Linked DNA regions of Homo sapiens. The protein of the gene in region 1 purifies or fractionates together with the protein of each later gene. This does not show direct contact. Each region holds a gene or a part of one and is shown in the gene's direction. Other genes may lie near its edges. The genes, in order: XDH and PLXNA4.

Region 1 (3,818 bases):
GACTTCGTGGGCCATACAGTCTCTGCCTCAGCTACTGAACTCTACCATTGAAGTGTGACAGCAGTCATAGACAGCTTGTAAACAGATAAGTGTGACTCTGTTCCAATAAAATATGATTTATAGACACTGAAATTTGAATTTGAATTGAATCTCATACAATTTTTACTTGTCACAAAATATTCTTCTTTTTATTTTTCCAGTTATTTAATAATGTAATTATTAGCCTACAGGCCCCACGAAAACAGGGGCAAGTTGGATTTAGCCCATGGAACGTAGTATATTGACTCTTTTGTACATGATCTACCCAGACTCAGATTCAAAGCCCCAGGTTTCTGGGACCCTATCTGACTACTCACGTATGAATGTGTGTTATTCCCAGTTACTGAGAGATCATTGCTGCTCCCCACTTCCTACCCGGCTGCTACAAACTCAGACTCCAGCGGGGATGGTGGCAGCAGAGATTTGGTGGGAACATCAACACTTCTGCCTGAGCACACCCAGGGCTTTCTGCTTGGGAACGTACTCTTTGGTTGGCACTTGTAGTCTGAGGGTCACTATGAGTCATCTGTCATATTCCAAACATCTTTTCCTCCTCTAACTTCTTGTAATTTTGCTGTCTACTCTAGAACCTCCGCACAGATATTGTCATGGATGTTGGCTCCAGTCTAAACCCTGCCATTGATATTGGACAGGTGAGGCTCAGTGGGACCAGGGTGGTGACAGACTTGGCCACCGATGCACCCCATTCCCCTCCTGGGGCCACCTGCCACAACATGTTGTCCAAGGTTGTCTTCAAACAGGCTGAAACATGGAACCTAGGGAGTTTCCCCCAAAGTAGAATTTAGATTGGTGATAGTCCAACCAACCCTCAAGGCAGAAAGCAAATTAATATGGGTCAACTTGGGAAGGGCACTCACAACTCAAAAACAAGATGAGAAATGAGGAAACATGGCATGCACATGTGAACATGCACACACACCCAATTTGAGTGTGAGCACAACGTAGAATGGGGATTGAGTTTGGGATCAATGCCCAGACAGTGGGGTCTGAGGTCAGAAGAGTTTTCTGTCTTCTCATTCCTCCTCCACCTAGGACAGCTTTTGTACCCCAGGAAGCAGATGCTGCCAAACATGGAGTGGTGGAAGGCCCTGGGAGCAAAACACAAAGGCTTAAGCAGAAGTAGTAAAGGGAGGTCCCAGAGAAAATCGCTTTAGGAGAATATGGGATTACTATGAAGAATAGGTGAAATAGGGCTGGGACCTGTGGCTCACACCTGTAATCCCAGCACTCTGGGAGGCCGAGGCAGGCAGATCACCTGAGATCAGGAGTTCGAGACCAGCTTGGACAACATGGCGAAACTCCGTCTCTATTAAAAATACAAAAATTAGCTGGGTGTGGTGGCATGCACCTGTAATCCCAGCTACTCAGGAGGCTGAGGTAGGAGAATTGCTTGAACCTGGGAGGTGGAGTTTGCAGGGAGCCAAGATCCCACCACTGTACTCCAGCCTGGGCGATAGAGCAAGACTCAGTCTCAAAAAAATAAATAAAATAAAATAAAGAATAGGTGAGATAGGAAAAAACAGAGGAGGAATCAAGAATTCAAGACTGAGCATCTGGTAGAAAATACAAATTGTACTTCTAAAAAATGGACAACTACTGAGTATACGAAAATCTGGCCATTAGTCAATCTGTTCATTAATTCATTGAACAACCATTTATGGTCCCCTACTGTGGCCAGGCACCAAGCCAGTACTGCAGACCCAAAGATGATTGCCAGTCGGTTTCTTTTCTGAATGCTCGTTGAGGTATGGTAGTGCCCCATGTCACGCTTCTGAGCAGGGGGCTGAGAGAGCAGATGTGTGGGCCTGTCTATCATGGCAGTTACCCTAGGAGAGACCTGTAAGCTGAACTGCAGTGGGGGCACTTTCTCCCAGAGGACAGGCAGGGGTGGGCGTTCAAAAAGGCTGGAGGTAAGTCTCAAAGAATCTACTATCGAATAAATCCTCCTGTGAGCTTGCTTCTTAGCTTTGGCTCACCATTTCCCCAGTAGCAACATGGAAGGAACATCTCCATCTGCACTGCGGCAGGTTGTAGTGGGAAACATGCCCACCTAGAATCACTGACCTTCCGTGTTAATGTCTTTGCTCTGCCTGAGCCAAAGCCTGGCAGAAGTCCGGATGGGTTATCCCAGGGCTGAGGCGGGAGCCAGGTAAGCAATAGAGGGCAGTTTTAGCTACATTCCAGGCCGCGCTGCAGTTGGCGCTTTGTGTCCATTGTGGCAAGTGGTATCTGTCCTCAGGGAAGAAGGTGGCAGGCTAACTGTGCTCTCCATCCATCCTGCAGGTGGAAGGGGCATTTGTCCAGGGCCTTGGCCTCTTCACCCTAGAGGAGCTACACTATTCCCCCGAGGGGAGCCTGCACACCCGTGGCCCTAGCACCTACAAGATCCCGGCATTTGGCAGCATCCCCATTGAGTTCAGGGTGTCCCTGCTCCGCGACTGCCCCAACAAGAAGGCCATCTATGCATCGAAGGTACCATTGCTCTGGCTCTGTGCTGTCTCTTCTGATCTGCCCTGGGGGAGGCCCCAGCGGGTGATGAGAGGCCTCAGTGACCCACCTGGTGGGACTTCAAAGGGCATATCTTGAGGAGGGAAGATGGTTTGACACTGACCTTGGTAGGGGCAGTGGGATAGTTGGGCAGTCCTGCTTGAGAACCAGTTAAATTGGGTTGAGGAGAGCACCTTAGTATGGTCTGAAGCCCACTTCTTTGGGTGAATTTAGAGGGATTCCTTCATCAAATCTTCTCATTTAAATCCTGGCCCACACCCATATCTCAGGCGTACGTCACTGGTGCTTGATCCTAAGAGATGATTTTACAGGTACAGCATTAGTATGGTCCAATGACAATCAGCACATTCACTGCCAATGGGATAGCACCTTTGTACACACCCTTTTACCTCCTTCAGTTGCCAATACTCGACCTTAAGACTTGATCAGGCTGGGTGCGGTGGCTCATGCCTGTAATCCTAGCACTTTGGGAGGCCTAGGTGGGTGGATTGCCTGAGCTCAGAAGTTCGAGACCAGCCTGGGCAACATGGCAAAACCCCATCTCTACTAAAAATAAAAAAAATTAGCTGGGCATGGTGGGACATGCCTGTAATCCCAGCTACTCAGGAGGCTTAGGCACGAGAATCTTTTGAACCTGGGAGGCAGAGGCTGCAGTGAGCCGTGACTGGACCATTGCACCCCAGCCTGGGCGACAGAGCGAGACTCTGTCTCAAAAAAAAAAAAAAAAAAAAAAAAAAAGACTTGGTCAGATGCCTGGAGGATTGTGTCTTCTATTTCTTCCTTATCTGCAGTAAGTATGAAAAAATGGTTGAAAATTGATTTAGCTGATGCATATAATCCTAGTTTGAAGAAGGAAGGCAACTAATCCTTGGTAACCAAAGAAACATCCATTTGCTCATCTCGTGGTTTACTTTACCATAGTGGGTGGGGAAGCTGGGACATATTGTGACCCTTGCCATTGACTGTCATACTTTACCATGCTTGGGAATTACTGAGGCCCATGATAAAAATGTGCCTTTCTGGGGCCCACGCCTAGAAATTTTGCTCCAATAGGTGTGGCTTAGGGCCCTGGAACATGCATTTTCAGCAAGTATCTTTAGTGATTCTGATATAGGTGGTCTCTGATCTATACTTTGAGGGGGAGAAAAACCAACCTATGCTAGAAAATGTTTTAATTCCTGTTTGTTCTTATGCCTATAATTCCTGCGGATGCTGTAATATGACTATGGTGCCTGTAAATGTTGGTGTCA
Region 2 (3,818 bases), on another chromosome or scaffold:
TCTTCCTCTCCATCTCAGGCCTGCTTTCCTGAAAGTAATACTTAAAATAGACTAGAGTTTCCCAAAGTATATTCTGCGGGGGAGTCAATAGGCATTACATGCAAAAAAGTTTCCGCAGTCAAGTAAGTTTGCAAAACCCTGGGTGTAAAGCAAAGCTAAAGATACTCCTTGCTGCAGGACTTCTCAGAGCCTTTAATACACTCACATGGATTGTGAAATCACAAAAGTATATAAACTGTGTAGTGGACCTGGAATCCACTGAGAAACACTGGACTAAGACAAGCACTTTGCTATGACTACTGTCAAATGTGAATAAAGGGGTGGCTTCTACAGTGAAAATTTCCACTGAACCTTTGCATTACGTAAACCAAGTACTGGATTCTGGTGATTGTGTGAGCAATAGATTCTCAAGCAGAATTGTGCCAGATAGGTACAGAGTCCACCTCTGGCCTCAGCATTTGCTCAGCCTTCTTCAGAGCCTATCCTGTCCCTTGTCTTTCCAAGGAAAGAGACAGCTACTTAGGCACGTGTCCATTTTCTTAGGTTCCTAGATGATTCCAATATGTCCCCTTGCTTAAAAACCACTGTTGTGGAAAAAGCTAGGCTTTGGATACAAATAGATGTAGATAACTCTAACTAAAGCATTTTGGGAAAAATCATTTTATGTTTCAGTTTATTGTTTATAAAATGAGGAGGTTAGTCTAGATCGGTGATTAAACATATTTTAACATGTATACAGTGAAAATCTTTGCTCCAGTGAAATTTTATATGGAATTCCAGTGCACAGAACAGATGCAAGCAGGACTATTCTTGTCAAAACTATGGAGGGCCTGGGCCTTGTGCCCCTGCCTGTCTGTCCTTCACTCCAGTCACAGCCTGGGTTCCCTAGAAAGTAGAGCTCAAGGAAGAAGCTATGTGTTATGACTTTATTGAGGGGTGAGATCCCGGGGAAGCAAAAATGAAGCAAAGGAGGAGAGGTAGGGAAGGAAGGAGAACAAATAGTGTATTACCAAGCTGGCCCTGCCTTCCCAGTGAAAAGCAGCTGGTGGCTCAGTCACTCAGGAGGTATCCAGGGAAGCCTGGTGTGAACAGTATGTCTCAGAATAGTCTGTGGTGGTGAGGCACAGCCAGCAGTTAATCCACAGGTCCTTCTGGTCTGCTGTAGCTCACTGGTCACAAGTCACCCCACGAGGCATGAGTCAACTCCCCTCACTTTGGGGTTGGGAATACCAGGTCAAGCTAGAGCCTCTGTGGGTCAGGCCCTGGGGCTGGGGCTTCCTTGGCTCTCCCTGCAGAAGGTATGTCAGGGTTACCCCTGCAGGAGCCCAGCCTTTGACTCTGAAGGAAGAAAAGACAGCAAGAACTTTAGGGCCAGAGGAACAGCAGAAAGCGTCACTGGGGGCCTCTTGTCCATTAGATACTGACTCTGTTTTCCTCCCTAAATACATATGCTTGCCCCTAACCACTGATTGATGTGAGCAACTCACTGACTTAGAGACGTGGGTCTGCGGTAGGGCATCTGCCTGAGAGTTGCGGCTCCTAGAGGGTAGGGTCAGCCTCTGCTTCCAGCAGTGTCTTGTTTAATCAAGAGCTCAATTCCTGCTTTTTAATAATGGTGAAGAAGCTGCTCCTGGCAGTGGCAATGATAACAAGGATTCAACAGGAAAATGGCTGCAGTTCAGAATTGGGGTGGGGTGGCGTGATGTCAGGTGGGACTCAGCAGATTTGGGCAGATACATAAATTGGGAGTCTGGGATAATGGTTTCCATGCAAAGAACATAAAGTTCTTCAGAACAGAGTCAGATGGCAAGACAGGGCAGGGTACTCCAATTAGGAGCCCCAGAATTCACGAGTCTGTGTCAACACTAGTCGACTACACTATTATCCCATTTAAACCCCAAATAGAAACCACATTAAGAATGGGTGCCAATCCGATTTCTGAAGACTTTTCTAATGTTTTGGGGCTTACTAAGCAACAGCCAGCCTTCCGCATAGTGGTGTGTGACTATTTCAGGGATGGCACGGCTGCTGGGAAGCAGGGGGAGGTCGTAATGACCTCTGCCACCCTCCCAGTTTTAAGAAATAATGAAAGCACTGAAATATAATGCAACAGGGGACATTTCTGCATAAAATATTTCCTGTAAGTCATTGCTTCTAGCTAGTCCTGCCCCTCATCAACGTTTTTTACTACTCTTGTGCTTTGAAGGCCCTTTAGGGTCAGGCTGGGGAGAGGACTAATGGTCATGCTGTGCTTGTGACCTCTTTCCCTGCTCTCTTGTCCATTAGATACTGACCCTATCTTCCTCCCTAAATGCACTTGCCCCTAACCACTGATTGATGTGAGCAAATCACTGACCTAGAGACGTGGGCCTGCATTAGGGTTTCTGCCTGAGAGTTGCAGCTCCCAGAAGGTAGGGTCAGCCCCTGCTTCAAGCAGTTTTTTGTTTCATCAGTAACTCAATTCATGCTTTTTAATAATGGTGAAGAAGCTGCTACTGGCAGTGGCAATGAAAACAGTGGGAATCATGTATTTCTTTATGTTTTAGGTTGAGAGGGATCATTTCTTACTTCTTGTATACTCATTGCCCAACCCAGAGCCTATCTTACTGGAAGCAATTGATAAATATTTGCTGTAAAAATAGAAGGAATAAATGGAGTAGGATAAGGTGGAGAAGAATGACCTTAAAAATATCAAGGCTAGGGTGAACCAGACTAATATGGTGGGTTCTTACTCTGCAGCAGGGACAGAGTAGGGATCACATCAAGTCAGACTGACTGGCTATTCCAGAGGATTCAGATGAATCCAGATGGGTACAGGCTGAGCCCCTCAGTTACCCTCCAGCATCCTGGGTCATAGTGGTTGGGGACAGGTAGGTGCAGTGGTCTTGCACATGGATGCACATGGAATTAAATTATTTCTCTCTGTGTAAAACTCACTATGGGTTTTGGCACTGATAGATTGCGGCGGGGGGTGGGGGGGAGACCAAGCTGAATTTAGCAGAACATTCCAAAGACTAGTCTATAAAATCCTCCATGGAAAGAGCATTCTGTGACCAAGTAAGTTTTGCAAGCATCCTCTCTTTTGTCCTCTTCAGGAGATGCATAAGGGCGAATTAAAGGTGAAGAAGACCTGTTGTTGGGAAACCTATTTATTCTTTGCCCACTGCTTTTCAGGTTATTGGGCCATGGGGATCCGTTTGTGTGGGAGTATTTAAGCCTATTGATGTCTCCTGGAAAGACGGTTCCATAGAAAGGCATTTTGGGAGATGGTGACCTTCAACTGGAAGCTTTCAAGTTTTGGTTTACTTCAGAGGTGAAAAAACCAGAAGAATGAATTCACTGTACTGATAAAATAGGGACTTGTAGGGACTTGTGACCCCAACTTTCAGAGGCACCGCCTGCCTCTTGTCCTTGTCATTTGCTTTTGAGACTCCCAGAAATGACTGCGAATTCTCACAAAACTTTAGCGACAGTGGCCTTGTGATCTGCCTTCAGGTGTATATTTCATAAAGAAACAAATTCAAAAAGTGTGAATGCCACTCTGACAGGTTTGTGGACATGTTTCCCACAAGTGGCACTTTTTGGTTGCACATAACAGATCAAGATGGATGTTTGCAAAATATGTGAGTAATGACATTCACCTTCTCAATTTTTTTTTCTCCAACTGCTTGAATAAGAGGCTTCAATATAACTGACAAAGATAAATGTTCTTTATCAAATTAACAAAGGAAGCTTGAGTTATTAAGACACATCTCCCTAAACTTTGGACGGTTGAAACAAATTTTCTCTTGGGAAGAGAAAACTTTGCCATCCAAGAA

The links.
Region 2: the proteins of XDH (region 1) and PLXNA4 purify together in Homo sapiens (co-immunoprecipitation; one large-scale study listed by IntAct). This does not show direct contact.

Annotation. Positions count from the first base shown.
Region 1 is NC_000002.12:31,338,203-31,342,020, reverse strand, and holds part of XDH (xanthine dehydrogenase/oxidase), read left to right. Parts: intron 1-626; coding exon 627-692; intron 693-2,343; coding exon 2,344-2,532; intron 2,533-3,818. UniProt on the Homo sapiens protein: Key enzyme in purine degradation. Catalyzes the oxidation of hypoxanthine to xanthine. Catalyzes the oxidation of xanthine to uric acid. Contributes to the generation of reactive oxygen species. Has also low oxidase activity towards aldehydes (in vitro).
Region 2 is NC_000007.14:132,566,455-132,570,272, reverse strand, and holds part of PLXNA4 (plexin-A4 isoform 1 precursor), read left to right. Parts: intron 1-3,818. UniProt on the Homo sapiens protein: Coreceptor for SEMA3A. Necessary for signaling by class 3 semaphorins and subsequent remodeling of the cytoskeleton. Plays a role in axon guidance in the developing nervous system. Class 3 semaphorins bind to a complex composed of a neuropilin and a plexin.